2 separate regions of the Homo sapiens genome follow, and region 2 is linked to region 1. The links come from fine-mapping of genetic effects on gene expression. A gene starts in region 1. The other region holds a variant in brackets. All regions are shown on one strand. Distances are from middle to middle. Region 1 holds the start of RNF7 (ring finger protein 7). Region 2 has its middle 48 kb from the start of RNF7.

The links. PIP is the estimated chance that this variant, and not a neighbour inherited with it, causes the effect. A credible set is the group of variants that fine-mapping cannot tell apart.
Region 2: its variant is the best candidate, but not a certain one, in a credible set for the expression of RNF7 in whole blood (GTEx, PIP 0.89).

What each region holds. Positions count from the first base shown.
Region 1 is chr3:141,735,952-141,740,344 of GRCh38, reverse strand. It overlaps RNF7 (ring finger protein 7), which reads right to left and starts at 2,047. Exons shown (of 3, transcript NM_014245.5): 1 at 1,829-2,047. The coding sequence starts at 2,003. RefSeq lists enhancers at 896-1,574, 1,775-2,014, 1,575-2,254, 2,365-2,414, 2,455-2,504 and silencers at 1,575-1,754, 2,015-2,274.
Region 2 is chr3:141,688,543-141,692,935 of GRCh38, reverse strand. It overlaps the pseudogene LRRC78P. Among named protein-coding and RNA genes, the nearest start is that of RNF7, 48 kb to the left of the region's middle. The variant G/A (reference allele first, on the strand shown) is at 2,392.

The DNA of each region.
Region 1 (4,393 bases):
TTTTCCTTTGGGGAGGAAATAGCTTTTTGGGAGACAAATCTTTTGAAAATACCCTTTGGGAACATTATTTTTAAACTGGAAAGGAACTAAGTGAAAGCTTAGTTTCCTTTAAACTAAAGGAAATTTATTTAGGAGATAAAATGTTTAGCGAAACTTGTCTTAAAAAAAAAAAAAAAGAGTCTCCTGGATCAGTTAAAAATGCTTCCCAAACTAGAAATTATGATTCCTAAGTGGGGGTAGGGGCAGCTGTATTGCTGGCAAATAAACTAGATACTTTTAAAGCCTCATATGTTTTGTTTGTTTGTTGCTGAGACAGGGTCTCATTCTGTCACCCAAGCTGGAGTATAGTGGCAGTGGCAGTGGCAGGAACAAGGCTCACTGTAGCCTCGACCTCCTGGGCTCAAGGGATCCTCCCACCTCAGCCTCCAGAGTAGCTGGAGGCCACCATGCCTGGTCAGCTTTTTATTTTAATTTTTAATTGTACAGACAGGGTCCTGCGATGTTGCCTAGGCTGGTCTCAAACTCCTGGGCTCAAGTGATCCATGTAAAATAAGTGGGTCATGTCTAATATCAAGGTCTTTCAAAAGAGAAAGATAAAAATATCTGAATCCAATTGTTGTAAATCCTCTTTGAAACAAGCCCTTAGGAATAAAAGACAAAAGAGCATAAACTGCGAAATCTCTTGATTCTGGTATGTTTACAGTCTCACCCCCCTTAAGGTGAGCAATTCTCTGTATGTTCTCCAATTCTCTCATTTTTCAAGACAAGTCACAGTTTTCAAACGATAGAAATGTCCGTTTTCTTTAACTACCCTCAATAAAGAATTCCACTGAAGAGGGTCTCATAGTAATTTTAAATGCCCTATCTGAAAATACAACTTGCATTTAAATAGCACCTGCTTTTCAAAGTGGTCTGAGTTCTTAGAACCATATAAAATATAACAAGATTAAGCTGTTCTGAAAAGTTTCACTTGGTCTAATATTTTAACTCAAAATATCACAGAAAGAAGACATATTTGTAAGAGGGTTCTCCACAAAGGCATGACTCAGAGCAGCACAGTATCTTCTCCAGGAAATGGCATCCAATATGGAGAGGGGGGTGTGATGGAGGTGAAGTTTTACGTTTCTGAAAAAAGGGCTTACAATTCTTCAGCTTCCATGAAACTTAGATATTCTTGAACCACACTGTTCCCTTCAAGCCACGCTAGTGCTATCTGACCCGTCTTAAATCAATCCAGATTTAAAAGCCATTCGAAGAGCGGCGGTAAGCTAATCCGGAAATGCAATGGCTATGAACACTTTCCTGCGTCCCTCGAGGAGAACTAAGGGTGTCGTTTTGTGGAAGATGACTCTGGAGCATCACTTTGGTGGTGACCAAGACTATTAAAGTTCACTGCTGAATCACGGCCTTTACCCTGACCACCTTGTGTTGAGCTTTTAGAGGTGGGGCTGGGGCTGGACACACAAACCGAAGTGTTTCCTGCTAGTTCCCAACAATCACCCGGTTTTACTTTCTTGGTCACACCCATCACTACCTGAAATTACCTTGTTTAACTCCGTTTATTGCCCGTCTCTCTCCCTAGAACACCAACCACCCGGCGCAGGGCGCCTGTTGCACAACCCCGCAGCCCCAGGCGGCGGCCGCAGCCCTCAGGAGCCGCAGCAGGAGCGTGGCTCCGCGTTCCTCCGGCGCCGGGGCAGGGCGACCTCCACCCACTCTCCCAGGCAGGGCACTTTCCGAGGCTTCTGACGGACGCCCGTCCCTTCCCAACCCCGAGGTCGGCTCCCGGAGGCCGCAGGGCGGCCCTGGACTCGCGTGCAGCGCTTACCCATCACCTGGACCCTGCAGATGGCGCACGTATCGCACTCCACGTCCCAGCTCCACATGGCCACCGCGTTCCACTTCTTGAGGGAGAACATCTTGTCGCCTCCCGACTTGGAGCCTGAGCTCCCGGAGTGAGAGGCCAGGGCGCAGGTTTCCTCTCCGTCTTCCACGTCGGCCATGGCGGCGCCGCGGAGCCGACGGCGGAGACGTTGGCTTGGGGAAGGCGGAAGGCTAGGGCGGCTCTGTGGAGCCGCCCGACGGGCCACAGCGCCGCCCGCAGGCCGCCAGCCACCGTGGTGCCTAGACCCCGGCTGCCCACGATTGGCTGGCGCGGCACAGTGACGTCACCTGACGCCAGCGCCAGGGGGGCGGGCAGGCCCCGCCCTCGCCGTCCTAGGCCAACTGAGAGGGCTCGGGCCCTTATGGGGCGACGCCGCTGAATCTGCCTGCTGCGCTGCGGGGTGTTACGTCTGAGCAGGCGCACAGATTGTGCAGGGATATGTGTCCTGCTTTACGGCTTCATTAAACCTACTGCTCTCAGAAATTATCTTGTTAATTTATTCGTTTGTCTCTTCCCTCCCAAATGTAAAACTCTATCAGAGCAGGAAACATGTTGCTATCACCACATTATCCTCCGTATCTGCAAAATGCCTGGCCACAGGAGGCACAATTATTTGTTGAGTGAATAAATGATCTTAAAGATCTAGAAATCTGGTTCAGTGATTCTCAAAACTTTTTGGTCCCAGGACTCCTTTTCACTTAAAAATTATTAGGACCTTAAAGAACTTTTATTTATGTAGGAAATGTGTAAATATATATATATATACACACACACATATTATGTATGAATATATATACACATATACAATGAATATATGTATATTCATATATACATACATTTCCTGTATATGTATACACACATATGTAGAGATTAATGTTTGCTTTTGAAGAAATTAAAACATTTTAAAATGTATTCATTAAAAATCACAGTAGTAACCTCATTACAGGTTATCATTAGAGGGATGACTTCACATACCATGTAGTTGCTAGAAACTCCGGTGTACACTCGTAGAATGAGAGTGAAAAGAGAGAAATAGCTCTAAATATTGTTAGGCAACTAGTTTGCCCTCTTTTGACCGCTAAAAGAGGTCGGGATCCCAGGAGTCCCGGTGTGTGGCGACACAACCCACACTTATTTTTCAGGCCCCGCTCCCTCAGCTGCACAGTCTCCATTCCTTCTGCTCAGTACATTTGAGCTAGTTTAACTTCCTCTTTTTATATGTAGGACTAATGAGGTCTGAAGAAGTGAAATGACAAAGATCACATCGTTATTATAGTAGTGCTTCTACGGCTAGCCCACCATCACATGTGTTTCCAAGAAAGCCGGTATCTCCATTGAAAAGAAAACAGAAGCACAGCCAGCCTAAGGAGATGCCTGACCCCACCATCACCTAGTGGTGGACAGCTACTCTGTCAAGTTTGGATTCTGAGCCTCTCCCCATCCCCTCATTTCCTGATACCTGGGCAAAAGCTAACCAGACTAATGGAGCCTGGCAGGGGAAACAAGAATGCATTAATATACAGAAACATAAATATGGACACAGGGTCACATTTGGTTAGATGCAAATGCGTATTTGTTGAGTGGTGTGTTAAGGGCTGTGAGGGTACAGGATGCAGTGAGGGAAAGCCTCATGAGAGAGGTAGAGGATGCAGTGAGGGAAAGCCTCATGAGAGAGTAGAGGATGCAGTGAGGGAAAGCCTCATGAGAGAGGTAGAGGATGCAGTGAGGGAAAGCCTCATGAGAGAGGTGAAGTTTGAACTGGGGGAACATGGGAGGTCTTCAGGGCCAGTGGAGAGAGCAAACCTCTCTGAGCTGTTGGCCAGAGCAGGGCACAATGGTGGCAGCAGACAGGAATTGGACCACACCTACTTTATAAGCCAGACACCCATTGGAGTGAGCACACAAAACATGTGTTCTCTTCTTACTGAACGACCACACATCTGCCTAGAGATGGCTGTAAATGCTAGGTATCTAACAAAGAAGGAAGGCTGGCACCAGAGGAGGATAAAACGCACCCAGTTGGTGAGAAGTTTGAAAGTCAAAAGGATGAAATGGTGAAAAGGAAAAGAATGGTTTCGCTGGAGGAATGGTATGTGCCCTTGCTGAGGCATGAAATCTGGAGAGAGGTGTCTGCTGCAATGAAATTTAAAATAGAAGCCAGGAGGGAGCATAGGGGCGGGAAGTGGGAAGGCAGGTGGAGGAGATGAGTACAGTTTTGACACACTGCATGTCAGGAGAACTTTTTCTCCTGACAAAAAGAACAGGAATGAGTGATGCGCCAGAGTTCAGTGCAACAAGCAAGCATGCATGGGGAGAAAGGAAAGCAGGAGTGAGGCAGAAAGTTCAGGCTGCAGCAGCTGTTCAGGCGTGGTGGGGCCAACGGGTCCCCTGTGATTACCTTCCTTTGGTTCACCTTCATGAGGGCTTGTCTGCCATCATGAGCACCCAAAGGGCAGGAACTATAGGTGGCCTTGAATGCAGCAAAACAAATATCTGTCCTTCTCATGG
Region 2 (4,393 bases), 47 kb after region 1:
CCTCAAGATCAATTTTTCTCCTCATCTTTTCACTTTACATTTCCAGTTTTGCCTTACAAAAGGTCTCTTCTTCCTCTGTGGATCCTCCACCTACATGTGTTTACCTGCTAATTGGACAGGCACATGCACACTACTTTTCCTTACTCACAAAATTCAATTTGCAAATAGGACCAAACAGCTTCCTGTTCCCCTCATGACACCAGCACTTCAATACTATTTTGTTTTGTTTTTTTTATTATGAATATAAGAAGACAGGAATAGGCCTCGACTTACTCACTGCTGAAAAAGGAGGACGCTGCATATTTGTAAATGAAGAGTGTTGTTTTTACCTAAATCAATCTGGCCTGATATATGACAACATAAAAAACTGAAGGATAAAGCCCAAAAACTCGCCAACCAAGCAAGTAATTATGCTGAACCCCCTTGGGCACTCTCTAATTGAATGTCCTGGGTCCTCCCAATTCTTAATCCTTTAATACCTGTTTTTCTCCCTCTCTTATTTGGACCTTGTGTCTTCCGTTTAGTTTCTCAATTCATACAAAACTGTATCCAGGCCATCACCAATCATTCTATATGACAAATGCTCCTTCTAAGAAGTGAAAATGGCCGGTTCCTGCTGTAACTGATGACATTACCTTGTGAAATTCCTACTCCTGGCTCAGAAGCTCCCCAACTGAGCACCTTGTGACCCTCGCCCTTGCCCACAAGAGAACAACCCCCTTTGACTGTAATTTTCCACTACCTACCCAAGTGTTGGCAAAATAAACTTTCTAAATTAACTGAGACCTGTCTCAGATTTCCTGGGTTCACAGTACTTTTAGGAAAGAGATCCCAGGGAGCTCTCTAGCCTTCTTCCCACCATGAGAGAACACTGGAAAAAAATGGCCATCTATGAAGCAGCCCTCTCCAGACATTGAATCCTCTAGTGCCTTCATCTTGGACTTCTCAGCCTGCAGAACTGTGGGGAATAAATGTTTGCTATTTGAGCCACTCACTTTATTGTATTCTATTCTAGCAGCCCAAACTGACTAAGACACTGTCAAAAACAAATGATAACCTCACTTGATTCTTTTTTTTCCTTCCTTTAATAGACTTTCCAAAACTAGCTCTGCCCAGTGGAAAAGCTATATTAATAGCCTTTATTAGCCAATATCAGATAACAGAGACAGTCTGATGAATTTTCTTTTTTTTTTTTTTTGAGATAGAGTTTTGCTCTTGTCATCCAGGCTGGAGTGCAATGGTGCAATCTTGGCTCACTGCAACCTCTCCCTCCTGGGTTCAAGCGATTCTCCTACCTCAGCCTCCTGAGTCACTGGGATTACAGGCACCTGCCACTATGCCCAGCTAATTTTTTTTGTATTTTTTTTAGTAGAGAAGGGGTTTCACCATGTTGGCCAAGCTGGTCTCGAACTCCTGACCTCAGGTTATCTGCCTGCTTCGGCCTCCCAAAGTGCTGGGATTATAGGCTTGAGCCACCACACCTGGCCAGTCTGATGAATTTTCTTACTTTACATTTTCATTTGACATTTTGGATCATAAGAATTTGTAATTTTCTAATTCAATGATATTTCATGGAGGAGTTATAAGGATAATTTCCAGGACAGAAAACGACTGCAGAAAAACAGATGAATATTGAAGAAGAGAAAGCCAAAAGGTGACAAGCTTCATTATAAGGGCCAGTTGCCCTCCCCCAGACTCATGGTAGAGAAAAACATGAAACGGACTAAAACAGAACAACACAAATTTAGATTAGCCTCCACAAGGAGCTTCCCAAAGACTGTGTTCATGACCACGCAGTGATAATCTTGCGTTGTCTCTTTAGAATTTCAAAATGGTAAAGCTGGGGTGGAATTTAGGATCCTGTGAGTGAAAAGTTCTCATTTTGCAGAAGAGGATTCTGAGAGCCAGACATTAGTGGAAGTGTCAGGGATAGAATCTGGGTCCCTAATGCTTAGCTGCCCATCTTTAATACTTAGATAGCTTCTCATATAGTCTAACCCAGTTCAGAGGTTACGGAGTTGTTGATTTCTTCAAATTCCTTCTAGATTACACAGTTGCTGATTCTAAGTAAAAATCATAGGATGGAAGTCTGTGAGCTGAATTGATCAGATTCCACAGGCTGTTCATTGCAGAGATATTCCCAAACCAGCTGAGGCCCCATTACTCTTTTTTTTTTTTTGGAGTGTTGAATATGTCAAAGATGAATTCCTCTGATGGCCGTGGCAAAGCCATTTGGTGTTTGGTTTACATGAAGTCACAAGACATTGAGTGTTCTTTTTTCTCCACTTGAGTTTTTCTCTGTTTGGTGCAACTACTTAGTAGTGGAACACACAGCTCATGAAAGAAGGAAGTGATTTAGAAGATGAGGGAAGTGGAAGGAACAGTTGAAAC[G/A]ACAACAGAAAAAATACCTTTTTTTCTCTTTTTCTTCCCTGAAGTAGTTTTCACTGTTACAGCTTCAGACGATTTTGTAATCTGGTTCATAGTTGAACTTCCTCTCTGTTTGGCTGGTTGAAAAAAAAAAGACTTTTTAAAAAGTAGCCTGTTCAAAGTCAAATGAATGGGTTTCTGACACACCTTGATGTTGGTTATGGCCTTTATTTTATGTTCACTTTAGGCAGAGATATTTCTCACAAAAGAGAATGATCTGGCCGCTTGTCAAGATCACATTCACTTCAGTTCAGTCCTGTGGTTTTTTTTTTTTTTTTTTTTTTTGAGATGGAGTCTTGCCCTGTCGCCCAGGCTGGAGTGCAATGGCACCATCTCGGCTCACTGCACCCTCGCCTCCTGGGTTCAAGTGATCCTCCCACCTTAACCTCCAGAGTAGCTGGAATTACAGGTGTGCACCACCCCACTCGGCTAATTTTTTGTATTTTTAGTAGAGACGGGGTTTCATCATGTTGGCCGGGCTGGTCTCAAACTCCTGACCTCAAGTGATCTGCCTGCCTTGGCCTCCTAAAGTGCTGGGATTACTGGTGTGAGCCACTGCACCCAGCTGGGTCCTGTGGTTTTTGTGTTTCTTTCCTTAAAGTCTCAGGGTGAACATGCAACCAAGTAGAGCTCCAAGAACCATCCTGCCAGCCTCGTGTTGCTTCTTCTTTATGTTTCAAAGCTGCCGTCTATAAAAGTGACTCCAAAGCCCTGGAATTAGTAAGAATGTAGCAGGGAGGAACTCTTTTTTGGCATGTTTAAAGCAACATATTAGAACATATCACTCTGGAGTCATTCTGGACTCTTCCTTTCTCTTGTACCCTACATCCAATCCGTTAGGAAGTGGGATAATGCAGAGTCTGACTGCTTCTCGCTGCCTTCCCCGCTATTGCCCTTGTCTCACCTGGGTAGACAGCTCTCTCCTAGAGGTCAACAGCCACCCAACAGGCCTCCCTGCCCACCCGCACCCTTTCCTGCCCACAAGAAGAAAAGGGAATAATGTAAAAATTGACATATTACTTATATTTCAATTCTACTAATTCTGCAAAATCTTGTATTAAAAAGTATTTTAGGCCAGGCACAGTAGCTCAAGCCTGTGATCCCAGCACTTTGGGAGGCCAAAACAGGTGGATCATTTGAGGTCAGGAGTTTGAGATCAGCCTGGCCAACATGGCGAAAGCCCACCTCTACTAAAAAAATATAAAAATTAGCCGGGCATGGTGGCTTATGCCTATAATCCCAGCTACTTGGGAAGCTGAGGCCAGAGAATAGCTTGAACCCAGGAGGTGGAGATTGCAGTGAGCCGAGATCGCCCAACTGCACTCCAGCTTGGGTGACAAAGTGAGACTCCATCTCAAACCAACCAAAACAAAACAAAAAACAGCAAATAAAATTGTATTTCTACACTATAACAAGTAATTATGATTAAGAAAACAAACTTGTCATTGGGTCCTAAGGCATTTGGGCCCCTTTGGTTGTCATCAACTGAAAGCCCCTGTGGCTGACTCTGGCCAGAAGGAAGAGTTACCGAGAGGCCTGGGAGTAGCTCACAGAACAGGAGATCAAACATTTGGTCCTCAAAAAGCAGTGGTCTCAAACATTTTTGTTCCCATAACAACATAGAGGAATATTAAAAAGTTTATGGACCATCTTGCACATTTTTAGGTTAGTATCTAAGATTTTCAACGTCACTTTTTTTTTTTTTTTTTTTGAGACGGAGTTTCGCTCTTGTTGCCCAGGCTGGAGTGCAATGGCACGATCTTGGCTCACCACAACCTCTGCCTCCCAGGTTCAAGTGATTCTCCTGCCTCAGCCTCCCAAGTAGCTGGGATTACAGGCATGAGCCACCACACCCAGCTAATTTTATACTTTTAGTAGAGTTGGGGTTTCTCCACGTTGATCAGGCTGGTCTTGAACTCCCGGCCTCAGGTGATCCGCTTGCCTCAGCCTCCCAAAGTGCAGGGAT